Homo sapiens: one gene and its partners. The protein of the gene in region 3 purifies or fractionates together with the protein of the main gene of each other region. This does not show direct contact. Each region holds a gene or a part of one and is shown on either strand. Other genes may lie near its edges.

What was found.
Region 1: the proteins of ZNF213 (region 3) and ZSCAN18 purify together in Homo sapiens (affinity purification with mass spectrometry; one large-scale study listed by BioGRID and IntAct). This does not show direct contact.
Region 2: the proteins of ZNF213 (region 3) and SUFU purify together in Homo sapiens (co-immunoprecipitation; 2 studies listed by BioGRID and IntAct, with this or other methods). This does not show direct contact.
Region 4: the proteins of ZNF213 (region 3) and CLPB purify together in Homo sapiens (co-immunoprecipitation; one large-scale study listed by IntAct). This does not show direct contact.
Region 5: the proteins of ZNF213 (region 3) and PPP2R2D purify together in Homo sapiens (affinity purification with mass spectrometry; one large-scale study listed by BioGRID and IntAct). This does not show direct contact.

The regions. Positions count from the first base shown.
Region 1 is NC_000019.10:58,085,454-58,088,927, reverse strand, and holds part of ZSCAN18 (zinc finger and SCAN domain-containing protein 18), read left to right. Parts: intron 1-90; coding exon 91-240; intron 241-1,523; coding exon 1,524-1,612; intron 1,613-1,919; coding exon 1,920-2,022; intron 2,023-2,661; coding exon 2,662-2,754; intron 2,755-3,474. UniProt on the Homo sapiens protein: May be involved in transcriptional regulation.
Region 2 is NC_000010.11:102,594,291-102,598,954, forward strand, and holds part of SUFU (suppressor of fused homolog), read left to right. Parts: intron 1-2,846; coding exon of another isoform or gene 2,847-2,849; coding exon 2,850-3,003; intron 3,004-4,664. UniProt on the Homo sapiens protein: Negative regulator in the hedgehog/smoothened signaling pathway. Down-regulates GLI1-mediated transactivation of target genes. Down-regulates GLI2-mediated transactivation of target genes. Part of a corepressor complex that acts on DNA-bound GLI1.
Region 3 is NC_000016.10:3,136,763-3,142,326, forward strand, and holds part of ZNF213 (zinc finger protein 213), read left to right. Parts: exon of another isoform or gene 1-326; coding exon of another isoform or gene 327-518; coding exon 519-917; intron 918-1,591; exon of another isoform or gene 1,592-1,655; coding exon 1,656-1,779; intron 1,780-1,982; coding exon 1,983-2,056; intron 2,057-2,212; coding exon 2,213-2,336; intron 2,337-3,873; coding exon of another isoform or gene 3,874-3,926; coding exon 3,927-4,585; 3' UTR 4,586-5,564. UniProt on the Homo sapiens protein: May be involved in transcriptional regulation.
Region 4 is NC_000011.10:72,426,511-72,432,936, forward strand, and holds part of CLPB (mitochondrial disaggregase), read right to left. Parts: intron 3,854-6,426; coding exon 3,802-3,853; intron 1-3,801. UniProt on the Homo sapiens protein: Functions as a regulatory ATPase and participates in secretion/protein trafficking process. Has ATP-dependent protein disaggregase activity and is required to maintain the solubility of key mitochondrial proteins.
Region 5 is NC_000010.11:131,951,738-131,958,163, reverse strand, and holds part of PPP2R2D (serine/threonine-protein phosphatase 2A 55 kDa regulatory subunit B delta isoform), read right to left. Parts: intron 2,481-6,426; coding exon 2,201-2,480; 3' UTR 1-2,200. UniProt on the Homo sapiens protein: Substrate-recognition subunit of protein phosphatase 2A (PP2A) that plays a key role in cell cycle by controlling mitosis entry and exit. Involved in chromosome clustering during late mitosis by mediating dephosphorylation of MKI67.

The DNA of each region.
Region 1 (3,474 bases), on a different chromosome or scaffold from region 3:
GAGCCTGCAGGTCCCTGTGGTTTAACTGTGTGATTGTTGTTGGCACGTGTCCTGACCTCTTGGGGTCACAGGTCCCTCCACTGTTGACAGGGATGCTGCTGGGCTCCCCTGCGGGCTCATCCTCAATTCTTAGCGATGGAGTGTACGAGAGGCACATGGACCCTCTGCTGCTACCAGGCGAGCTCGCGAGCCCCAGCCAGGCCCTTGGAGCTGGGGAGATCCCGGCACCTTCTGAGACACGTGAGTGCCCAGCTAGCCTGGCAGCCTCTGCTGGGCCTTAGGTGGGGTGTTGGGCAGAGGCCTGTGGTTGGGAGAGGGCAGAAGGGCAGCCAGGGAGTCAGGGGCTCCATGGTCCATGCTATCATTGGGACTTCCTCCTGTAGTTTCTCTGAATGTTAGACATTGTTTATTAAATTAGTCTTCAGAGATTATGCAGATCATCCATACTTACCACAAATAGTGAAGAAACATCAATACATAAAGAAAAGAATCTCCCAACCCCCGACCATGAACCCTCTGAAAATAAAGGGTCTCAAGTGTCCTGATGCACGTCCCCTCATGTCTCCCTGCACATCACACATGCATAATCAGGGCCTGGGGTCGGGCTCTGTGTGTGTGGTGTGCTGTGTCTGAGTGCTTGCTGTTCGAGGGGTGGGTCCCCCAGGCTGTGGTTGGGTCTGGTTCTTTAGTTGCCCAGCATCGCGTGCTCAGCCCATCCCCATCCTAGAGGTGGGCTCTCTGCCCCTTGGAGTGAAGCTGCCCTGACACCTCCTGACTTGTGTGCCCATATGTGAGGCTCTGGGCACTGTGGGTGGACTCCTCAGGACCACTGGGCAAGTGGTGTGTGAGTTCGACATTTCACATAAAATAGAAACTTCCATGTGGTTTTCCAGAAGTTTTGTGGCTGTTCATTACCAGCACGGAAGGTGCCCACTGGCCTGGATACAGCCCAGCACTATGTGGTGTTGCTTTTTAGGATTTCCACGAAGGCCAGGCACAGTGCCTCATGCCTGTAATCGCAGCACTTTGGGAAGCCAAGGCGGGCAGATCACTTGAGCCCGGGCATTCGAGACCAGCCTGGGCAACATAGGGAGACCCCATCTCTACAAAAAATACAAAAATTAGCCGGGTCCGCACTTTTAGTCCCAGCTACTTGGGAGGCTGAGGTGGGAGGATTGCTTGAGTCCAGGAGGTGGAGGTTGCAGTGAGCCAAGATCATGCCACTGCACTCCAGCCTAGGTGACAGAGCAAGACCCTGTCTTTAAAAAACAAACAAACCAAAAAAAAAAAAGATTTCCATGAATCCAGTGGACTTGAATGGGCATCTCTGGGGCCACCCAAGCCCTGTGGCCACCGCGCTGCTTTGTAAATCAGGGAAAGGTGTAGTGTCCGTTGAGCCTTGGGTGCTGCTGTCACAGAAGCACACTGGGGCCTGTGTGGGAGGCAGCGGGGGCTCCTTGACCCTTGAGGGCACCTGGCCACAGGGAGCTCATTGCCTCAGCTCTGCCTCTCCTTCTCCCCAGCCTGGCTTTCTCCGGACCCCCTGTTTCTGGAACAGAGGAGGGTCAGAGAAGCAAAGACCGAAGAGGACGGCCCTGCCAACACCGAGCAGGTGGGTGGGCACGAGCAGGTGGGTGAGGGGCCTTGGCCTCAGCTTAGAGGCATCCCCCTCCCCATCACCAGTGCTCAGCAGAGGGCTGTGGCCCCAAACGTCCACAGCGCTGAGGCCCAGAACCCACCCTGGTGGGAGCGTGAGGGCGGAATCTTTGTGGTGCGAAGGGGGCTGCCTCCTGCAGTGCACCTGGGTTAGAGTCCCTGGCCAGGGCTGGCTCCTAGCCTGCTCCTGTGGCTGTGGGGCTGCGGCGGGTCCTCCCTTCTCTAGGGCAGGTGGGAGGTCTCAGCCACGACTAATGTTTCAGAAGCTGAAGTCCTTTCCAGAGGACCCTCAGCACCTGGGGGAGTGGGGCCACCTGGACCCTGCCGAGGAGAACCTGAAGAGCTACCGGAAGCTGCTCCTGTGGGGTGAGAGTCGCCTGCCTCGGGGTCACGCCCCACTCCCCATCCCCTTCCGCAGGGGTTGGTGCAGGAGACTGTGACCCCAGGGACTTTGGCTGGGACACTGTGATGTCTTACAGGATTTGAACTTGCACGTGTTGGAGCTTGAATTTATTCGCTGAAGCCCCCACCCTTTCTGATCTAAACATCTGAGTTCTGCCCAGGCCCTGCCTGTAGGACTGAAGCCTCGGAATTTGGAAAGGCCTCCTGGCCCCAAGGCGCCCACATTGCCACCCTCCTTGCCAGATACAGGGCCTCACCTGCATGGCCTGATCAAGGGTCTCCTCTTTTGTAGACGTTCTTGCCCCAGAAACCCTCCTTTTAGGGAGGCCCCCCGACTCAGACTCCTGAGCAATTTTTGTCAATGTCTTTCTTTAGCTTTGCTTTCTCTGAGTCCTGCCTCCGCCTGCCCCGTTGCCCTTCCAGCCTCGCCTTCTTCTTTGCTCCACTGTCCAGGGGCCTAACAGGGAGGTGGCCTTGGTGGGGGTCCCAGTACAGAGAAGAGGAGGTGGGCTGCAGCCTGCCCTGGCTGGCCCACGACACACAACACCCATCAGCCACTCTGTGTTGATGCCTTTTATTTCTTTGGTTTTTAACCCCACTCAGGGTATCAGCTTTCCCAGCCTGACGCTGCCTCCAGGCTGGACACTGAGGAACTCCGGTTGGTGGAAAGAGATCCACAAGGAAGCAGCCTCCCAGGTGAGGTTGGGTTGAATTGGTGTTAGGGCCGGGTGGGGTTTGCTTTTTCTTCAGAGGCTGAGGGGGCCCCTCCCAGCGCCATCAGCCCCAGCAAAGACCTCAGCATTGACTGCTTCACCATTCTCCCACCACCGTGTCTGAGTGAGGCAGGAATCCAGTTACGTCCATGGTCTCTTGCTGCATGACAGACCACCCCAAGACTTGGTCGGTGGAAACGGCAGTGGTGTTAGTTGCCAGGATCTGTGTATGACTGGTCCCGGGGGTGGCCGTTCTGCCCCATTGGAGGCTCTGTGCCAGCACACCAACAAGAACACCTAGAGGCGGACTTGGGCTGGAGGGCCCTGGGTGCCTGTCGCCAGGGGGCTTGTCGCTGGGGGGTTTGGCCTTAGCTATTGACCCCACTCTCTTCGCTGGCAGCCGGGCCCCTCCCTCCAGGAGGGTGCGCTCTGAGCAGGCTCTCCTTGCATCGTGCATCTTGTGGCCAAGCTAGTGGCCAGGTGGAGACCTCCAAAGGCGCGGTTTCCAGAACCCGGGCTCAGTGGGGCTGTCCTTCCTGTCCTGTCGGTGGCCTCCGTTGTTGGAGGCCTCCAGGTCCCACATCTGCAGCAGCAGGCGCGGGGCATGCGCTGCAGGGCTGCCTGGGAGGGACAGCGCTGCTTCCAAACAGCCGTGAGCCCCGCGGGGATCCAGAGCCCGGAGCCCTGTGCGCTGTTCCGGCAG
Region 2 (4,664 bases), on a different chromosome or scaffold from region 3:
TATTTTTATTGTATGTAAATTATATATTGGCTTAAAAAATTAGATTGCCAGCAATAAAAGATAAGTGTAGTGGATATTGCTTGCTTGCCCAGTATTCATTCTCCTGCCTCCCAGACTTTCTTTTAGGGAGCCACCACGGCCACCACCGCCCTGTACCAGACAGTAGTGTAGGTGATACTGACTCCATGGCTCAGCTGCAGGAGTGAGGGCTGATTGGTCTAATGGTCCTATCCCCATTTTCGCCACATTTTCTATCTTGGACAGTCAGATGCAGAGCTCCTAGCCTGGAAAGATTGGCACCTTAGACACACAGGCTGGCAGCTGCCCACTCCCTGTGGCCCACCTGGACATTGTTTCAGTGTCATCTTTGCTGTTTTAGAAGCATTCCTTTGTCATGCAGGTAAAGTTTGAAAGCCACAAGAACGTAACTGCCTTTTCTTTTTTTGAGACGGAGTTTCGCTCTTCTCACCCAGCCTGGAGTGCAGTGGCACAATCTCGGCTTACTGCAGCCTCCGCCTCCCAGGGTCAAGCAGTTCTCCTGCCTCAGCCTCCCGAGTAGCTGAGATTACAGGCGCCCACCACCACGCCCAGATAATTTTTTGTATTTTTAGTAGAGACAGGGTTTCACCATGTTGGCCAGGCTGGTCTCGAACTCTTGACCTCAGATGATCCGCCCGCCTCGGCCTCCCAAAGTGCTGGGATTACAGGTTTGAGCTAGTGCGCCTGGCCCATAACTGCCTTTCTTATGGGCTTCTCTTGAAGCAGGAGCCACAGACAGCTAATAATGTTACCTGCCTGGTGTCTGGCTCCTTCTACTCCCCTGACCAAATGCAGGTCATTGCCATCTCTAAACCTGCCATGCTTCTGTAAAATATCTGGTAGGCCACAGGCAGTTGCCGGGAGTTCCATGTGTTAGAGCAAGAGAAAGGTGGCAGATGGACATGTAGCCAGCAGCCCCTGAGTTCTTCACTGTAGACTTGTGAGTTCTTGGGCATAAATCCTCTTCATTCACAGATGATGCTCCTCTGTTTTCCTAGTGCCTTTAACACTGAACATTTCAAACTGCTGCCAGGATCCTCTGTTCTCTCTGCTTTAAACTTGGTTTCCTTGTATCTTCTGCATATGCAAGAACCAGGAACCAGGAAGGCTATCTTTCCCTAAGCCCTTGTTCTGTAGCCACACTGGGATCCAGCATGGGGCACTGTGGGCCGTTGTTTGGCCCCTGTCATAAGTGCCAAGTACTAAGAAAGAACCTGGTCCTTTGCACTAGTAGGGTAAACAGCTGTCCTTCCATGCCAAGGGCTGTTCTTCCTAGTCTGCAGGATCCCCTGAGAGCAGCCCACAGGACCCGGAGCACCTAGTGGTCTTTGAAAGCAAGCCAGGGTCCCACAGGAACAAAGGACAGCTTTCTTTCCTGGTGGCTCTGTGCACCAAGTGTGAACTCCTCTGTATTCACTGTGCCTTTCTGGGGCCTGCTTGCTATCAGTCTCTTTAGAGCTGGCATATATTCCTGTGATTCAAGCTCTACACTAACCAGCTGTGTGCCCAAATAAGTCCCTCGCCTTCTGGGTCTTAACTTTTTCTTTTTACTTATAAAGTAAATAGCCCAGACAAGTTGAGCCAAGAATTGTCTGTCTGCAACTCTTTACCTAAGTGAGGGACCCCAGGGCAGCCAGTGCAGAGGAAAAAGCTCAGACTATCCCCTGAGCACACCAGGGTATACATGCTCCCTGCCCAGAGTACACAGAGCGCTTCCCTGCTTAGCCTCTTCCTGCTCGGAACCCACAGCTTTGCCCAGGCCAGCATTAGCACTTGAAAGGAGGAGATGACTGATGGGAAGGAGGCGTCTGGGGCAGAGCCACTTGCTGACTGGTCCCAGGAAATAAGGACAGTACCTGTACTTCTCCCACATGGGGCTTCTGGGCTGATCAGCAGGCCAGTGTGGTACCTGTGGAGCCGGGAAGCACAGATTATTGTTGAGATGCTCAGTCACAAGCTTGATTTGGCCCACATGGACATAGAGCCTTCCAGATGACTTTTAATTCAAGGTCCAGCATCAATGAACTGTGTTTTACCAGAAAATCCAGGGATGTTTTGAGTACAACTCTTCCTTGAAGCCATTTGGAGAGTGTTTGTACTCAGCAGTACCAAGGCCTGCACAAAGGCAGGGTCTCGATGGGGAGAGAAGGGTGTCTGCAGATAGTCACTGCACTCTAGGCCCCCATTTCAGTCTAAGAAATGGGAAGGAATCTCCATCCAGAGTCCTTTGCTAAACAAGGGAACCAATGCATCTAGGGAAGTCCAGCCTTTGTTCTCCAGTGGCTCTTCCCTGTGTGACCACACCCTCTAGCTGTTAGAAGGGGAAACTGCAGGTGTGGCCTGTTGCCTGTGGCAGGCTTCCACCCTGTTTTCTATAGCAGTGACTGGGAGGTTCTGCCTGAAGATCGGGAGGAGAGGAAGGATCACACCTCTCCTCAGAGAAGTAGGCTCTCTCATGGCCACATCAGCCCCACCAGCCAGCGTGGCGGGGACAGGTTTGGGGCTCTGAAACAGGTAGAGGCCATTGTGCTGGAAGGCTGATGGTAGAAGAGATGTTTCCCTTGGGATTTGCATTCCTCCTGGCTTCCCCTAATCCCTGGTTCCCCTGGAGGAGTCCAGGAGCTGGCAGAGACCATCATGCATTGGTAACCAGGGCAGAACAAGGTCAGAGATCCTGCTCTCCAGCATTTGTCCCATGCTCAGCACCACAAGGGCTCAGTAAATACTGTAAGAGCAGTGGCTGAAAGGGTGGTCACCTTGGGTCACCAGTTCTCTGAAAGAACTCTGGCTCTTTGGTTCTTTTCAAGCAGGAGAGAGTTGACAAAGGCATCGAGACAGATGGCTCCAACCTGAGTGGTGTCAGTGCCAAGTGTGCCTGGGATGACCTGAGCCGGCCCCCCGAGGATGACGAGGACAGCCGGAGCATCTGCATCGGCACACAGCCCCGGCGACTCTCTGGCAAAGGTGGGAGCCATCACTCAGCATTCCACCAGCCTTCCTCCTTCCTTTTCCCCAGGGCCTGGTTTCCAGTCTCTCTAGGATGGGTCTCTAACAAAAACAACCCATTCAATAGTTTATTTCCTGGCATGATTTAAACAGCAAGTGAAGTCTTCCAGCAGGGCGGAATTAAGGGAGCTTTATTGGCCCATTCCTAGTTGTGTTTCCTGTGTGTATTTCAAATGCATCACCAGCAGGCACCGTTGTGTTTTAGATATGCCCTTTGCAATCTGAGGTCATGGAGGTGAGTGGAAGCCTCAGAACAGTTACAGGAAAAGTCCATAGTCCACCCAAGTGCAAGAGAAAAGTGTCGGCCACCCACGGAATTGACACAGGGCCCAGCTCTGGCCTGAAGGCCATGCCAGATCCAAGGATCACTCTGGCCTCGGGCCCTCCCAGGCCTTCAACAAATGAGGCCTGAGTGTGAGGCTGGCTTGCAAATTGCCCACCTCCTGTCATATAGATACAGGGTTAGGGGCTGTGGGCAGGGCCTCTGGACCCACCGTGTTCCGGATGGGGTCTTTGGGAAGGAGGATGTGGCTGTCCTGTTGGAATCTCCCTGTGCTGATCTTGGCTACAGAAACAGTTGTGGTTTTTAGTAGAGGGCGTCCCCAGCTAACTGCAAAGGAGAAGCAGCCACTTACATATACATGTGTTGACAGCTTCTTTGTCTACTTCCTTTCTTCATTCTTCCATCTTTTCTTTTTTTGAAGAATAAGATGTCTACAGCCCTGAATAAAATCCTTACATATATGATAACACTTATAAAAGGTTTTTGTTCGTTCTGTAAAGGACAAACTTAAACTCCTAGTGCAAATATTTGAGCCCTTTCTTTTTTTTTTTCTTTGAAACAGGGGTCTCTGTTGCCCAGGCTGGAGTACAGTGGGTTGATCTTGGCTCACTGCAACCTCTGCTTCCCAGGCTGAAGTGATTCTCCAGCCTCAGCATCCCAAGTAGCTGGGACTACAGGCGTGAGCCACCAACGCCCAGCTAATTTTTGTATTTTTTTGTAGAGTCAGGGCTTCGCTGTGTTGCCCACGCTGGTCTTAAACTCCTGAGCTCAAAACAATCCACCCGCCTCAGCCTCCCGAAGTGCTGGGATTACAGATGTGAGCCACCGCACCCGGCCAAGCCCTTTCTTTCCTTCCTGTTTGTTCTAATGGCATGCCAAGCCTATTGGAGGCTCAAAGAGAGGGTATACAGTTATTGGAATCATTTGGTTGCTTTTGACAAAAGAGGTGATTTAAAGAGGGAGTCATAGTCTTGTCTAAAATTTCAGTCATTACTGGCTATTTTTAAAAATTGTAAAAGTAATCCATTCCACTGTAACAAGTCAAATAGTTAGAAAAGTTAGTAATCATCTCCTTCCCACTCTAAGGCCACTCTTTGAGCAACTAATTTTAATTTGCTTTTTTGTATCTGTTTACAGTTTGCAGAGGTAAATTTAGATCCAAATCTCAATACAGGGGACCAGACTAGTAAGCTTCATCCCAAAGACCAGCAAAGCACCTTACAAAGAAATAATCCCACCAAGGGAACTCTTTCACTTCCTGGCCCTTGCCTCTCCATGGAGAGGCAGAGTTTCCTGGGATAGACCAAGGTGGAGAGATGATCTTAGCATCTCACTG
Region 3 (5,564 bases):
TACAGAAAAACACACGAGTGGGTATAGCTCAATGAAATTTTATAAACTGAAGATATATGTTATTAATATTTCCACCATAATTTTGAACATTTACATTTAGTGGAATAAATTGAGATTATAAATATGCTTATATCAGGTCAGGTGGTGCTGCCAAATGAATGACATTGGGTTTTGCTGTCAAAGAGTTATGAAACACCCGGGTTTTGGATTTCTGGCTTTGGGATGAGAGCTTGTGGGCCTGTGTTAATAGGAGAGACAGTCACATGAGCAAGGCATTACAGTAAAGCCTAGAAAAGGCTTCAGGGCCATGAAAGGATGGGGACTGGATGGCTCTTCAGCCTGGGGTTTGCTCGTGTATTCCACATCCTTCCTCCTCAGTCCTGCCATTTTGCTCTTTCCCCAGGAGTACACATCCAGATGCCAGCCCAGCTACCACAGGGGATCCCTCTGGGAGACTGAAAGTACAGGTTCTGGGGCCCAGGTTGAAGCCGACCAACCCTGAGCCTCAGGCCAGGGGAATGGCAGCCCCCTTGGAGGCCCAGGACCAGGCCCCTGGGGAGGGAGAAGGGCTTCTGATTGTGAAAGTGGAAGATTCCTCCTGGGAACAGGAATCTGCCCAGCATGAGGATGGCAGGGATTCCGAAGCCTGCCGCCAGCGCTTCCGGCAATTCTGCTACGGGGATGTGCATGGGCCTCATGAGGCCTTCAGCCAGCTCTGGGAGCTCTGCTGCCGCTGGCTGCGGCCCGAGCTGCGTACCAAGGAGCAGATCCTGGAGCTGCTGGTGCTGGAGCAGTTCCTGACAGTGCTGCCAGGGGAGATCCAGGGCTGGGTGCGTGAGCAGCACCCGGGAAGCGGTGAGGAGGCTGTCGCCTTGGTGGAGGACCTACAGAAGCAGCCAGTGAAAGCCTGGCGACAGGTGAGGGGCCCTTCCACATCCAGGGGCACCTGGATGGTATCTGAGCTCGAGAGAAGTGGGTAACCTGCAGAGATAAGTCTCCCAGAGGCTCACAGGGTAGGGGAGACACAGAGCCCCCAGGAGCAGGCACACAAGCACAGTGTGCCATGGGTGCCTTTCTGAAAGATGCGATCCAAAGTAAATGTGATTTATTTTTTGTGGCTTTGGAAGGCAGCAATAGGGCTGAAGTGCGAATGTTCCAGACAGGAGGTTTTAGCTCCATGCAGGGTCTGCTGATGTTTATTTGCATTTTGCTCTAGGCCTGGCTCTGGGGACACAAGGGTGTGCATAGAGCCAGCTCCAGAGTGGGGCGAGAAGGTGGAGCTGTCCGGGGCCTCTGCTACCTTGTGGGATGTTGGGTCCTTCACATTGGATGCATCTGGGGAGGTTCTAATGAGTGGCTGGGGGATGGGGTTCTGCCTTTGGCAGGAGGGTCCCCAGCTACCCCCTTGCTAAGTGGCTGTGATTCTGGCCTTTCAGGGCTGGTTCTTGCCTCGTGAATGATCGGGGAGCATCCTTGGGCACACAGCATTACCTGGTATCACATTCTCCTCCGGACTTTTCCTGGGGCACCATATTGGTCTCCTTCCCACACCCCAGCATCCTGAGGGTCATGTCCTGTGTCTCCTTCCCAGGGAGTAAACTCTGTCTCCCCCGGTCTGGTCTCGGGCTGATGAGCATGTTGTGGTTCCTGCACAGGATGTGCCCTCGGAGGAGGCGGAACCCGAGGCTGCAGGCCGGGGATCCCAGGCCACGGGGCCTCCCCCGACGGTGGGGGCACGGAGGCGGCCGTCTGTTCCCCAGGAGCAGCACAGCCATAGCGGTGAGTAAGCCTCCGTTCTTGTGGACAGTCGAGTGGCTGGGCAGGGACCTAGCTTTGTCACCGGCGTTGCCCTAAGGGTCACAGGCAGGACAGCTCCCTCTGTGAAGTCCAGGGCGTGTGTGCATGCGCACAGGCTGGGGAGGCCATAGGCGTCGGTGTCAAGCCTGGGCTGGCCTTTCTAAGGCTCCATTCTTCTCCTTCAGCCCAGCCTCCTGCTCTTCTTAAAGAGGGTCGTCCCGGAGAGACGACGGACACCTGCTTTGTCTCTGGGGTCCATGTGAGTCACCAGTCCCTTTGTCTTCTTTAAGGCACTTGGCCCTGTTGAGTTTGTAAAATGGGACTTGCTGTCCCATCAGGCCTCTTTCATCTGACCCATCCTGTCCCCGCCAGTGCTGCTGGGAGGCCTGAGCCGGGTCTTCTCACCCCATTCCAGGGACCTGTGGCATTGGGAGACATCCCATTCTATTTCTCCCGGGAAGAATGGGGCACCCTGGACCCTGCTCAGCGGGATCTCTTCTGGGACATAAAGCGGGAGAACTCCCGGAACACCACCCTGGGTAAGCACCCAGGGCCTTTGGGTCCAGGCTGGCCGCCCCCGATTCTGCTGGAACTTCAGTCTTGTTTCCCACCCCATCCTTAGCTGGTTCCAAAGCAGGCTCTCCCTAGGTCTTGCCAGGAGCCTGAGTAACTCCTTTCTTGGCTGATGATCAGTTTTTGTGCGTTTCCACATGCAGCATGGGACGGCGCCGGCGCTGCCCAGCCCTGCAGTTGCTCTAAGGGCAACTTCTCCTTTGAGTCTCACAACCTAGTGCATGGAAGTATTGTCCCCATTTTACGCATAAGGGACCTGAGACTCAGGTCAGTGGATGCTGAAGGGACACAGCTGGGACTTGGATCAGGCACAGTTGTGAGGCCACCTTGGGCTGCTAGGAGCAGGGGTGCTGACGGGGAACCCCAGCTGCTCACCAGCCTGGGCCCCTGCTCGTCAGAACTGCACTTACCAGGTTCCTCTCCATGCCAGGCCCCTTCTCAGCACCATCAGGGATCATCTTGTTCAGTCACACTCCCAGGAGGATGGGCTGCGACCTCTGTCCAGATCTGTGTTGAGTTTGGAGAACTAGAGCCTGCGTGGTGAAGGGAGCCACACTAGCTAGACCAGTTTGGCTCCTCAGTTTCCGACTGTGACGGTTGGGAAAAATTTTCTTTCTTTTTTTTTTTTTTGAGATGGAGTCTTGCTCTGTCGCCAGGCCGGAATGCAGTGGTGTGATCTCAGCTCACTGAAACTTCCACCTCCCGGGTTCAAGCAATTCTCCTGCCTCAGCCTGAGTAGCTGGGATTACAGGCATGAGCCACCATGCCCGGCTAATTTTTTTGTATTTTTAATAGAGACGAGTTTTCACCATGTTGGTCAGGCTGGTCTCGAACTCCTGACTTCATGATCCGCCTGCCTCAGCCTCCCAAAGTGCTGGGATTACAGGCGTGAGCCACCGCGCCCGGCCCTTGAAAAGTTTCAGAATTACTATAAATCTGTTCTGCTGTGGAGCTTGATATCTGGGGTTCAGAGTGGGACATTGGATCCCAGTGTGGCCTGCAGGGCACAGATGGCTTAGGGGGCTGGCCCATGCAGGCGGGATCAGAGGCTTATTCAGACTGCTGCTCTGCCGAATTTTTTCATCATCCCTGATTTATTTGGGTTTTTGTTTGTTTTTGAGACAAAGTCTCGCTCTTGGAGTGCAATGGCATGATCCCGGCTTACTGCAACCTCCGCTTCATGGGTTCAAGTGATTCTTCTACCTCAGCCTCCTGAGTAGCTGGGATTACAGATGTGCGCCACCATGCCCTGCTGATTTTTGCATTTTTTAATAGAGACGGGGTTTCACCATGTTGGCCAGGCTGGTCTCGAACTCCTAACCTCAGGTGATCAGCTCGCCTCAGCCTCCCAAAATGTTGGGATTACAGGCTTGAGTCACTGCGCCTGGCCAATCATCCCTGTTTTATAGATGAGGAACCTGAGAATTCAGCTGTGTGAACCCAGGGCTTTCTGAACCTGGAGGCCAGGGAGCTTTCCCCAGCCTTGTTTCTTCCTCACCTCAGCTCTGGCCCCAGAACCGCGTGGGACTGAAGAGGTCGCCTCCTTCCCCTTGCAGGTTTTGGGCTCAAAGGCCAAAGTGAGAAGTCCCTGCTGCAGGAGATGGTGCCGGTGGTGCCAGGCCAGACAGGCAGCGACGTGACTGTGTCCTGGAGCCCCGAGGAGGCTGAGGCCTGGGAGAGCGAGAACCGGCCGAGGGCGGCCCTGGGCCCAGTGGTGGGCGCGCGACGGGGGCGGCCACCCACTCGCCGGCGCCAGTTCCGGGACCTGGCAGCCGAGAAGCCGCACAGCTGCGGGCAGTGTGGAAAGCGCTTCCGCTGGGGCTCGGACCTGGCGCGGCACCAGCGCACGCACACGGGCGAGAAGCCACACAAGTGCCCTGAGTGCGACAAGAGCTTCCGCAGCTCCTCGGACCTGGTGCGCCACCAAGGCGTGCACACGGGCGAGAAGCCCTTCTCCTGTTCCGAGTGCGGCAAGAGCTTCAGCCGCAGCGCCTACCTGGCCGACCACCAGCGCATACACACGGGCGAGAAGCCTTTCGGCTGCAGCGACTGCGGCAAGAGCTTCTCGCTGCGCTCCTACCTGCTGGACCATCGGCGTGTGCACACCGGTGAGCGGCCCTTCGGCTGCGGAGAGTGCGACAAGAGCTTCAAGCAGCGCGCGCACCTCATCGCGCATCAGAGCCTGCACGCCAAGATGGCCCAGCCCGTGGGGTGAGCAGCTGGCTTGGCCGGAAACCCGGGGGAGGCCCAGCCACGGCACATCCTGCTTTGTTCACCACTGGGACTCTCCTTCCATCTGTGGCCACCTCCCGGGCTGTCCGAGGGACCCCAGGGTACCTCACACTCGGAGCTCGCCTGCCCTGCTTGGCTCTGAGGACCTGCCCAGCGCTCAAAGGGAACGGAAGCCTTCCCCTCCCGCCCCCGATCTTGTCCTCTTTCCCCCTTCTGCGCCTAGCGTTCCTCTTCCCCTCTAGTTTCCTGGAGCCCCAACACATTCCTGGCAGGGACAGCAGGGTGGCAAGGACTCAGGTCTAGGTCCCTTCCCAGAAGCCCCCGAGCCTCATTTGACTGTGTGGCTCTTTGGCCCCCACCCTGTGGGGTGGGTCCATGGGTCAGGCCTCTGCCCTACCAACCTGTGCCTTTCAGTGGGCGTGGAGGACTGGCCTTGGCCCCCCAGGGGGCTGCTGGACTTTGGGAGAGACAGCCCACACCTGTGGGACCGCGGGTCTTAGTCACGGCGGCAGGGGCTTTCTGGCCCCCTCCCACTCCCGTTTCCAGGCCATGACCACTCTGCCCTGTCCTGGCCATACGGACTCGGCCTGCCTTTGCCCTCGGCCTACTTGCCCTAGCATGAGGCTCTGAGAGCCACCTGCCCACCAATCTGGTGAGGATAATGGTGGCTCCAGCGACAGGAGGCCAACCCTGGAGACCAAGAACAGGGCGCCTGGCTGCCATCTTTTCCTCCAGAGGTGGGGCTGCACCAGACTCAGCACTAGCACTCCATCAGCACTAGCACCTCACTCCATCAGCACTAGCACCTCACTCCATCGGCCCCGGCACCCTGCTCCATCGGCACTGGCGCCCTGCTCCATCGGCACTAATGCTCCACTCGGCGCCCCACTCCATCGGCCCCGCTCCATCGGCACTAATGCCCCACTCGGCGCCCCACTCCATCAGCACTAATGCTCCACTCC
Region 4 (6,426 bases), on a different chromosome or scaffold from region 3:
GGGGAGAAGGGAGGAAATGGATGTCACACAGGAAGGGAGGGAGGGAGGGAGCGAGGGAGGGAGGAAAGAGAAGAGACCTGGCCTCCCTCTGATATAGCCAAGGGGAGTGTGAAAGCCTCTGGACTGCTTACTTCAGGTACACTGAAAAGTCAATAAAAAGCAAAGAAAGAGTCACAAAAAACAAGTAAGTGCCGCTGTGCTGTGGAACAGGGTAAAAGACGGTAGAGAACACAACCTTGTCCCTGCCCTTCAGGAGGTGCACAATCCAGCAGTTTCAGATGAAATATAGCCCACAGACTTCTTCATATAAAGAACAGTGTGGCAAGTGGCATTCAGCTCTACTTCTCCAACCTGACCTCCAGCTTCTCTTCCACAAAAGGAGCTCCCTCCTGTGACAAGCTGCCATGGTCCTTTCTAGATCACCCTCATACCCTCCCAGACCAGAAGGCAGGTGTAGGATCAGAGTGGGGGGAAGAGGCAAAGGAAGATGAGATCACACCCAGCTGGGAGGAATCCAAGAAGGCTCTGTAAGGAAAGCAGCACTAGAGCTTTGAAAGGTGTAAGCAGAGGATAATGAATACAGATGGCAGAGGGCCATCTGTGGAGGACCCACATCCAGGGCCCATGGACTGAAGATTCCAGGGTGTCCTTAAAGAGGAGGATCGAATACCTCCCCCTGGGAGCAGAAGAGCATTAGGCTGCTGCCCTTCACTATCCAGAACTTTCCCAAGACTCTGGGGCTAAGGACAGGAGCTGGGGGAGGTCAAGTAGAGGCAGACACAGTACAGAGCCCCAGAGAGGTCAAGTGGGGAAGAAGGGTAAAGCACGACATTATTTACGAGGTCTGAGTTTTGCTCTAAATACTGATATTATTGACCATATCAATCATATACACAGTGACCCAACCATGTGTAACCTACAGTCATGCGCTACACAATGATGTGTTTGTTAACGATAGACTGCATGTATGAGGTGGTCTTATAAGATTATAATGAAGCTGAAAAATTCCTATCCTCTTGTGACGTTGTAACTGTCTCAACATCATAGTGCAACAAATGACCTTTTCTGTATTTAGGTATGTCTAGATACATAAATACTTACCATTATGTTACAATTGCCTACAGTATTCAGGGCAATAACGTGCTATACAGATTCCTAGCCTAGGAGCAACAGGCTATACCATATAGATTAGGTGTGTGGTAGGCTATTACCATTTAGGTTTGGGTAAGTATACTCTATGATGTTCACACTGTGATGAAATTGCACTACTCAGAATGTGTCCCTATTGTTAAGCAAGGCATGACTGTATGTGTAAATTCAAAGAAATAAATGAGTATGGGATTCTGTCCTGCTATAGGCAGGTCTGTTGGGCAGAGCTAAGAGCCCAGGACATTGAAGAAGAAATAAAGAGCAGCATGAACCACCTGTACAGAGTCTAGGGTACAGAAAGGCTGAATAAGGACCTACTGTAGGAATTCCAGAAAGTTTCCTTCTAGCAAGGATGGTCAGGCTCCCTTTACCCCCACTGCCCCCAGACCTGGCTCTGTTCGCAGGAAGAACTATAACTGGTGGGTTACATGTCTGTTTCCTTGAGACCAGGGCCTGGGTCACCATCCCCATCCCCCATCTGCAGTGCCCAGCAGAGGCCCACTCACTCTTTCATAATCAAGAGCTGCTTTGGGTGAGGGGGAGGGAAGGATGTCCTCATTCAGGCCCTCATCATCTTGAATCTGTCTTTACTGAAACAGAAACAGCCTCTTAACAGATCGGCCCTCAGCCTTTTCCCAATGCAGTCCATCCTTCACTCCTCTGCAAGTCAGCCTTAACTGGGTCATTCCCCTGCTCAAAAACTTCCCACGTCTCCCCACTGTGTACAGAGTAAGAGTTCAAAACTCCTCACCCTGGGCATGGCAGGCCTTGCACATTCCAGCTTCTCTCAGACAACCTTCCCTCTTTTCTGACACCCTGTACAAATCCCACCTCAGGAGCATCAACATATTCCGCAGGCCCAGCAGCCAGCCAGCATCTGCTTCCCGCCTTTGCTTAGCTTGCTCCTGGCTCTGTGGTCTTGTATGAGATGGGGGCTGAGGGCAGGTCTGTGCCTCGCTCATCTCTGATGTCCTCACATGGAGTGAAGGGAGATTCTGACAGGGTCATCCTGACCAAGTGAGGTGGGACAAGAGGAGGCAGGAGAAAAGCAGGCTAGAGCCTGGGGACACACATGAAAAGCCCCCCCAGACACTATCCACACGAGAATGAATGTTCAGAAAAATTGTCTGAATCACACATACACCGTTAAGTTCAATTACTTTCTGTATTTTTGGGATGGGTGTTTAATTGCTATTAGAAAAACATGTATTTGAAAGAACTAAATAATCAATGCCTGGCAGCTCAATGGAATATGGTAGTGGCATCCCCTGGGGGATGGAAGAGTGGATTCCCAACATTGCTGCTCTGCAAATGCCCTGCCAAAAGGGGAAAGTCGCAGCCCGGCAGCCCTTCGCAGTAGCCAACAGGTGATTCCAGGGTCAGCAAGGGTCAGTTTCCATACCCGTACTCCTGTACTGCAGCAGAATGAAGCAAAGCACATCTGTTTCTGGAGGAATGAAGATGCCACACACAGCCTGCAGTTATGAATGGCTCTTATAACAACAGGATGACATCTGTGCTTGGTTTTTAAGATGCATCATCGCATGTTTATTAAACTATTGCTCCAACATATTTATTTGGCTACAAAACAACTCCCAGCCCATATTTCCAAAAGTGGTTTATTAAAAACTAAGGCTTGAACATTAATACCCAAAAGCACCCTTGAGAATCAATAATAATGCTGCAGATAAAATGAAAGGGAATCAAAGCAGTAAGTCTTGGTGGGGTGGGCTGCTTTTCAACACTTTCTTGTATGTTCAGGAAGCTAAGGTGGGGAAGAACACCAAGGGCCTGTGGCACTGGGTGTGGAAATAGCCACCCCAACACCTGACTTCCTGTCTAACATGCAGACATGATGGCAAGGAAGGGGGGTGTCCTATGGCCACCTAGCTCTATATAAATGGCCAAGAGAGGCCAAGGTTAGGCCCAGTGGGGGGCATAGTTTCAACAAGAATAAGACCTCTGCCCTTAACCAACAGCCCTGTAACTGATGCCCCATGCTGGCCCCAGTCTGAGCATCCATCCTGGACACAGACTCTGCCCTATACCTGGCACTGGGCTGAGCCGAGTTGAATCTTGCCCTTGCCAAATAATAAGCCTCAAATTCAACCTGCCAGTGGTCACTGGAGACTAGCTGAGCCAGTGAAGCTACAGAAATGCAGTCTGTCCCCGGGCAAAGCCAGGTATGGGCCCCTGGCCCTGCAGGCAGGCATTTCTAGCCCCAGACCTTCTGGCAGATGGTCTCTTCCAGCTCTGTCCCAAATCCCCAAGCCTTTCCATAGATGCCGACCTGCAACCTGTCCAGGCAGCAAGCAGTAATACATGGCCATTCCCAAAGAAATGAGCACAAATCAGAAGATTCAGAGAAGAACCCAAAGGATATGGGGGCTGAAGGGAGTCCAAACCAACCCAGTGAAGAACAAAATAGCTGAAGGATCCAGGGATGTTTGGGAGCTGACTCCCTACCGAAAATATCCAAGGGGTGATCTGGGTAAAGGAAGCCCAGGTGACTCTGTGACTACAGAGATGTCACAGGGGACAGTTCCCAGCTTAGGGTAAGGATTTCCTCCAAAGCAAAGTCATCACACGAGAAGAGGCTCGCCCTGCTCAGCCTCTCCTGTAGGGGAGAGCAAGGCCTGGGGTTCAACTCACCTGCTGACTTCTTGCATATTGTTGGCACGGGCAGCTTCCAACAGGGCTGCATCTGAAGAGAAAGGGGGCACTGGTCAGATCCGCGGCCAGGACATACCCATCTCAGGACTGCGTGGAGGGCCCACTAAGACAGTGGCAGTACTTTAGAAACGTGGACTTTGACAAGCAAACTGATGTCACAATATATAATGAGAAACGAATCATTCCCTCCCCACATGGTGTCCACTGTTAACAACCTGACTTCCACACCTTTCTACTACAGAGCCCAAACTCTTCACTCCTCTCATCATAGAGGGAATGCAGGTCAACTGCTAGCACCACGTCTTGCCTATGGTAAATAATGTGCTCTTCATAATCTATGAAGCTCTGCATATGCTTTATGTTCCTATAAGAGTTATTACTAAAGATTCCCTGATCTTGTCCACTTTCTCCCTCAACTCCAGTTCTTCAACCCAGTTCTGAATCTTGATGTCAAGTCATAAACCCAAAAGGAAAGGTAGAATGGAGAGGAGCAAGCAGGGTGTAGGCCTCTCTGAGGATGGAGAGGTCTCAACTAGGAGTCTTTGAGATCTAGCTCCATTCCACTCCCACTACTCACCACGTGACCATGACAGCTCCTCTCTCTCTCAACCACAGCTTTCCTGACTGTAAAACATAGACAAAACTCCTTGCCCTGCCAGCTTCACAAGGATGTCAAGGAGATGAAATGACAGTTGAGACGTCTGCAAACTCCCCAGTGCTGAGCCCAGGGAAGGGAGACCCAAAGCAGAGGAGACACTAAGCCTAGGAGAAAAGCAACGCTAGCTAAGTGCGTCTGGCCTGGTCTGGGCAGCCTGCAGGCTGTTGCCACCACCTTGTGGCCATAAAGAAAATTGGACTGACTCAGAAAAACTCAAAAGTCAACAGGAGAGGCACAATCTTTTCAAATAGCTCAATACCAGGTACATGGAGCCCTCTGTGCCCAGCCTGGTTCTGAGCTACACTGCTGGGCAGTGGGCGGATTCATAGCCAGCCCTGACTCAGGGAACTCTCAGTCCAGCCAAAAGACTCACTCATGAGCAAATGCACTGGAGTAGAGTGAAAGAGCAGGATCTGGAGACAGTCAGACCTGGGGTCTAGCCCAGCTCTGTCGCTTATTTGCTGTATAACCTAGCCCACCTATCTAACCTCCTGAGCCTTAGTTTCCTTATCTGTACAATACACCTTATCATGCATATGAAAGCCAGTCCTGTGGTTCAGACATTGATGCCTCCTGGCCTAGATTCCAGGGACAGGTCCTTTCTACTTACCTTACCGGATGTACCTAAAGCACATACCCAAGCATGGCTCAGACAGCCACCAGCTGGGAGGGGATCAAGCCTTCCTTAGAGATGGCTATATCCACTCTCCCTTCACTCTGCAGAAAAAAATGTGGCTTCTACAAGGTTACAGAGTGAGGAATGAGCTAAGAACCAGGGCCTCCTGGCTTCTAAAAGGGTTCAGTTTCTACCACACTGCACTGAGGGTCAAAACTCTAAGTCAGGGGACAGGGTAGCTGGCAAGTCAGTTCCAGCAGGAACTGGTCACGGCTTTGACCATTATCTATTTTGGTAAATAGACCCTGGTATTCTTGCTGGAGTTCATAGGCCATAAAGTCCAGTTGGGAACCCCCAGGAACTTCTTAGGCAAGACCTCACCAAATACACTGGACTCAGAACATTCCCTGCTCATGAACCTTCCATAACTCTCCACTGCCTACAGAAGAAATTCCAACACCCTCACCTACCCCACCCCTGACTGGCATCCAGGCCCCACTCCATCTGCTCTCATCTAATTCCAAAGACCTTATCCTCCAACCAAGCTGGCTGCTCTGCTGGCCCCTGCACACACCATGGTGCCCCGAAACTGTTATTTCCATTCCCTGAAGCCTTTGCATGGAATATAATCCAACTCTCACACATTTACTGAGCACCTACTAAGTTCCAGACACTGTGGTGGGCAAATGATGTCTAGGTATTCGGGAAAGTTGCTAGTATAACCTGAAAAAACAAAAGAGAAGATACATTTCCTGCTCTCATGGGGCTCAAAAGATCACTCCCCTTTCCGTTTCTACTTCATCCTTCAGAACTCAAGTTCAAATTTCCCATCCTCTGGGGTCTCCAATACTCCAGAAAGGCTTTCCTGACCCTACTGGCCCTCTGATCCCCCAACGACACATAGCACCACTCACCAGCCCTACATTCCAACTGCCTGCACTGTCCCCTTGACTGATTTTGTGTTAAGTTAGGACTTCCCACACACCTAGCCTAAAACTAGACACACAGTGGGTACCCCCAAAAATGCTGGAAGTTATAGGATTACAACATGCCTAAGCTCGATGCCCTTAGTGTCTATTTCAAAACCCTCATTTTGTAGATGAGGAAACAGAGGACCCGTGAGGAGAAGCAAAAGTCCAAATTCACAATGAGAGTTAGACACAGAACCAAAACAAGATCCCCAGTGTTGTCTCTCCCAGACCAAAGTCCTTCCTTTACAATTGGCCACATCAAACGAATCAAAGTCAAGGCACTCCCTACTCCCCAACTCTTGCTCCAAATTCTCAGAGCTTGGGGTGCATGGAATCTATGGACACCATGCCTCAGTCTT
Region 5 (6,426 bases), on a different chromosome or scaffold from region 3:
GGATCAGCACACCCCTTCATCTCCACAGGGGGACGGGGATCAGCACACACCTTCATCTCCACAGGGGGACGGGGGATCAACACACCCCTTCATCTCCACATGGGGATGGGGGATCAGCACACACCTTCATCTCCACAGGGGGACGGGGGATCAGCACACGCCTCCATGTCCACAGGGGCACGGGGGATCAGCACACCCCTTCATCTTCACAGGGAGATGGGGGATCAGCACACACCTTCATCTCCACAGGGGGACGGGGATCAGCACACACCATCTCCACAGGGGGACAGGGGATCAACACACCCCTTCATCTCCACATGGGGATGGGGGATCAGCACACACCTTCATCTCCACAGGGGGATGGGGATCAGCACACGCCTCCATCTCCACAGGGGCGCGGGGGATTGGCACACCCCTTCATCTCCACAGGGAGATGGGGGATCAGCACACACCTTCATCTCCACAGGGGGACGGGGGATCAGCACACCCCTTCATCTCCACAGTGGGACAGGGGATCAGCATATCCCTTCATCTCCACAGGGGGATGGGGATCAGCACACACCTTCATCTCCACAGGGAGATGGGGGATCAGCACGCACCTTCATCTCCACAGGGGCACGGGGGATCAGCACACACCTTCATCTCCACAGGGGGACGGGGGATCAGCACACACCTTCATCCAGACAGGGGCATGAGGAATCAGCACACACCTTCATCTAGACAGGGGGATGGGATGGGGGATCAGCACACACCTCCATCTCCACAGGGGCACGAGGGAGCAGCACACACCTCCATCTCCACAGGGCACAGGGGATCAGCACACACCTCCTTCTCCACAGGGGCACAGGCAATCAGCACATACCTTCATCTAGACAGGGTGACGGGCGATCAGCACACACCTCCATCTCCACAGCAGCAGGAGGAATCAACACACACCTTCATCTCCACAGGCGGACGGGGGATCAGCACACACCTCCATCTCCACAGGGGCACGGGAGCCCGACTCCCCACTCCCCTCGGGGACACGTAGTGGGCGTGTGTTAAATCCCACGGAAGCAAGCTCTGGTCACTCAGCATTGGTACAGCTCTGTATTATTTGTCTTGGAAAATCTTGATTTCTGGTATCAAAGATCCTACTTTGAAAATAAACCAACGTACTGGTGGCATCGTGTAATTAAAATTGCTTAATTTTGCTGGCTTGAAATGCAGGATGAAATTTAGCATGCATGTAATTTTAGCAATGTTTAAAAAGTATACTTTCCCCAAAGTGCTTTTTCAAAAGCCTTAGAAAGCAAGCACGTATTTCTTCAACTGTAGTGAATTTGAAGCTACTTTAAACCAGGCTTACTGGATGGCAGCAATTTTGGTTCTTCCTTGCAATTTTCTTTCTCAGAGGTGGCCTCGGTTCTGGCTTTTCCCAGACCTTACCTGGTGTATCTGATGGGCTACTTCTACAGAAACACAGCGGGCAGCAGCTTGGGGACAGAAATGCTGCACACATACCCCCACGCTGCCAAAGAAGGACACACATTTCTCAAACAGTTAGTTCCAAAGAAGAACCCTGCATAACTTCATTCTATGCAATAAAATTAAATAAAAAGACAATACTTCTGTTTGGATTTAAAAACACTTTATAGTGTGTTGTTTTTATTGAGCGCTCACACCCGAAGGGGTGGCGGCGGATGCTGTGGGTGAGTGGGGCCGCCTGAGCCTGCTCGGGCCACATCCACACATCCACAGAGTCCACCTGGACTCGGAGGAAGGCCGAGAGGACACGGACGGTGGCCACACCACGCTGCAGTGAAGGCCCAAGTGTGATGGCAGAGAAAGAGGGAAAGTTGGAGAAAGAGCGGTATCTGACAATAACTTTTCTCTTGGATGTTAATTTTTTGGTCTATAAATTGGAAAGGAAGGCTCGGACTGAAATAAATACATTTATTCTGAGTAATGACCTTTTGGGAGCAGTGTCCGTCAACTCTGCTTCGAGAGCGTCTCCACGTGAGCAGCAGCGCCTGTCTCGCGCCTCGCCGAGGCGGAACCACACCGGGCCTCCAGCGGAGGCGGCTTTCTCCTGTGTCTGTGAAGGGAAGTAGCAGGTGCGTCACTGTTCTTAATGGAGCGGACAATGATGCCTTTTCTCTGACAGAAAAATGTCCGGCTTAACTATGCAAGACAAGACTTGGTCCTCACGTTCGCGTCTCTAGTTGATTTTGTCCTGGAATATGTACAAGTTATTGGTGGCAGCCACGGCAATGACATTGTCCACGGGGTGCCAGGCTGTGTGCAGGATCTTCTTGTTGAAGTCCAGACTGTCCACACTGATCTCGTCTTTCCTCCGCTTACCCCCCGTACACACCTTCCGGGGTTTGAGGCTGGCGCGCGGTTTGCTGCTCTCTCTCGAGGCCTCCAGGGTCACATCCCTCCGCGTGTCTCTATCAAACATCCTGAAGAAGTTGTTATAGGACCCGGTCATGATGGCGCTGTTCAAAACAAGAGCAGACAGCAGCACTCCTCAGTGGGGGGAGCGGCAGCAAGGACTCAGACCCCACCCCTGGGGTGCACAGCGCACGCCACCCTCCCCCACAACCCAGTTACTTTCAGAAATCAGGAATGATCAATCACAATGGGCAGAAGAGAAATGCAGTGAAAATGTGTACCGAGCTTTATCTATAATCATGTCAGTAAGAATCCATGTCACAGGAGAAACAAAATAATGGAGTCACACTTTTAACATTAGTGTATTTTTTGAAACAACCCCACCTATTTATCTCACTCATGAATAACAGCACAGTTTATTTTTAAGCCTTATGTTCTGCAATTTGTCAATGATCCATAATGACCTGAACATAATCCTTATCATGTTCAACAGTTACTAGTCATATCTGTCAATGTTTCTTTGGAGTTAAACTGCTTTTCTATTAATTTCAAAAAGTTTCTTTCAAATGAGGCAACGGATAGAAATAGTAAAAATCCACTGGGCAAAGTGTGGCAGAATTTTAGAACAACTGCATTTCACACACATTCCAGACAATACAATACCGTCCATGCTTTTGTTTCTTCAAGATCAACTGTAATGGCTTTCAAATGTCTCTGCTGTCGAAAAATTCTACTACCGCACACATCCTCATGATATAACTTCATAATACTGGTAAAAACCTCTGCAATCTTACATTTTCTACAAAAATGACAGAAAAATAGCTGAATGATGCAAACGCTGCCATGATTTGACCCATGGCTTCATGAGTCCAGTTTCTGATGAAAGATGTGTTCAAACAATGCCCTTCTGGTTTCTCCAGCCGTCCTTGAAGCTCGCCTCCTCTTCCTATTTTGACACTAACCCGCGCCCTCACGTCCTGCCCCCATGGTCATGCGCGGTGAGAGGCCTTTCACGCTGGCGCGTCTTCAAGGTGCCATGAGAAAGAAGCGGGCCGCTTCCCTTCCATGGCCCAGCACTGACCCTGGCTGCTGGCAAATACCTAGTGTCTGACTGACCTTGTCTAAAACTTCAAAGCAGGGGAAAAAAAAAAAAAAAAGACGAACTCAGAGAAGAGAAACTGCATTCAGCGATCCATGTTTATTTCCCATCTCCTGCTTCCATCCAGGAGCCCACAGCGCCACAGAGGCGGGAGACACAAGGTGTGCCCAGCGCCCTCCAGCAATGCCAAGCTGTGCACGTGGTCTTGGAACAGGGGTATGCAGCCAAGTTGGCACGTGAGGGCCATTGACTGGGGGTTCCCCAAATTAGTTTCCACATAAAACACAATGTTTACGAAAGGGTAAGTAATAAGAATGTGTGAATCTGAAGCTTACATTTATGTTATTAAAACTCAACAGTAACCATTATTCAGAACACAGACGACAGATGATGTATGGCCGACACTGACTGGAATTGCTGGTGCATGGTAATAACGAAAAGCACATCAGCTTTCATACAGATTTATGATCACTTTTAAATTCTCGACAGATAGTGCCAGCCCCAGAGTGGGTGTTTCCACACTGCAAACAAGGGCGCTGCCCAGCAGCCTGGTGCTGGCCCAGGAAGGGAACAGCACAGACAGAGACACAGGCGTAAGCACATAACTGGTTCTGTGGGGCGACCTAGAACACAAGAAGGCGCTGCCACACGGAGAATCAGGATTGGGCTGAGGCAGCACTGAAACGCCTCACTCCCCTTCATCGCATCCCTCAACAGAAGTTTCCAGGTAGGAAGACTGGCGTGTTTTTGAGAGTGAATGGACTAAGCAAATGTTACTGGGAACGCTTTTAGATGTTCTTGGGGATATGTAATCTAAGGGTATTTTGCAATATTTGAAATATATCAAGAGGAATAAAAAATACAGTGACTATCCATGTACCCGCAAGTCACTGCTAAGACAGTGAACCCCCCGCACACTCGCAAGTCACTAAGACAGTGAACCCCCGCACACCAGCAAGTCACTAAGACAGTGACCCCCCCACACACCCGCAAGTCACTGCTAAGACAGTGAACCCCCCGCACACTTGGAAGTCACTAAGACAGTGAACCCCTGCACACCCGCAAGTCACTAAGACAATGAACCCCCGCATACCCGCAAGTCACTGCTAAGACAGTGACCCCCACACACACAACCACAAGTCACTGCTAAGACAGTGAAACCCCCTGCACACCTGCAAGTCACTAAGTGAACCCCCCGCACACCCACAAGTCACTAAGACAGTGAACCCCCGCACACCTGCAAGTCACTGCTAAGACAGGGACCCCCCGCAAGTCACTGCTAAGACAGTGAACCCCCCACACACCTGCAAGTCACTGCTAAGTGAACCCCCCGCACAACTGGAAGTCACTAAGACAGTGAACCCCCGCACACCTGCAAGTCACTAAGACAGTGAACCCCCGCATACCTGCAAGTCACTGCTAAGACAGGGACCCCCCCGCAAGTCACTGCTAAGACAGTGAACCCCCCCACACACAACCGCAAGTCACTGCTAAGACAGTGAAACCCCCCGCACACCCGCAAGTCACTAAGACAGTGAACCCCCGCAAACCTGCAAGTCACTGCTAAGACAGGGAACCCCCGCAAGTCACTGCTAAGACAGTGAACCTCCCACACACACCCGCAAGTCACTGCTAAGACAGTGAAACCCCCTGCACACCCGCAAGTCACTAAGACAGTGAACCCCCTGCACACCCGCAAGTCACTAAGACAGTGAACCCCCGCACACTCGCAAGTCACTGATAAGACAGGGACCCCCCCCGCAAGTCACTGCTAAGACAGTGAACCCCCCACACACACCCGCAAGTCACTGATAAGACAGGGACCCCCCCCGCAAGTCACTGCTAAGACAGTGAACCCCACACACACACCCGCAAGTCACTGCTAAGTGAACCCCCTGCACACCCGCAAGTCACTAAGACAGTGAACCCCCCGCACACCCGCAAGTCACTAAGACAGTGAACCCCGCACACCCGCAAGTCACTAAGACAGTGAACCCCCACACACCCGAAAGTCACTAAGTGAACCCCCCCGCACACCCGCAAGTCACTAAGACAGTGAACCCCCCGCACACCCGCAAGTCACTAAGACAGTGAACCCCCCGCACACCCGCAAGTCACTAGTGAACCCCCCGCACACCCGCAAGTCACTAAGACAGTGAACCACCCGCACACCCACAAGTCACTAAGACAGTGAACCCCCCCGCACACCAAGTCACTAAGACAGTGAACCCCCGCACACCCACAAGTCACTGCTAAGACAGTGAACCCCCGCACACCCGCAAGTCACTAAGACAGTGAACCCCCGCACACCCGCAAGTCACTAAGACAGTGAACCCCCCCCACACATGCAAATCACTAAGACAGTGAACCCCCCGCACACCCGCAAGTCACTAAGACAGTGAACCCCCGCACACCCGCAAGTCACTGCTAAGACAGGGACCCCCCAAGTCACTGCTAAGACAGTGAACCCCCCCGCACACCCGCAAGTCACTGCTAAGACAGTGAAACCCCCTGCACACCCGCAAGTCACTGCTAAGACAGTGAACCCCCCCGCACACCCGCAAGTCACTGCTAAGACAGCGAACCCCCCTGCACACCCGCAAGTCACTGTTAAGACAGGGACCCCCTGCAAGTCACTGGTAAGGTGGTGAACCCCCTGCACACCCGCAAGTCACTGCTAAGAGAGTGACCCCTCTGCACACCAGCAAGTCACTGCTAAGACAGGGACCCCCCTGCACTGTGTTGCCACTCTGGAAAGAAAGATGGTCTCCTATCCCATCCCCAGTTGGGGTCCTCACTTGCTAGAGTACATATGTGTCATCCCCACACACATTTATATTTTGTATACAGATTTTTTTTGTTTTTTTTTGAGACAGAGTCTCACTCTATCGCCCAGGCTGGAGTGCAGTGGCACAATCTCAGCTTACTGCAACCTCCACCTCCAAGGTTCA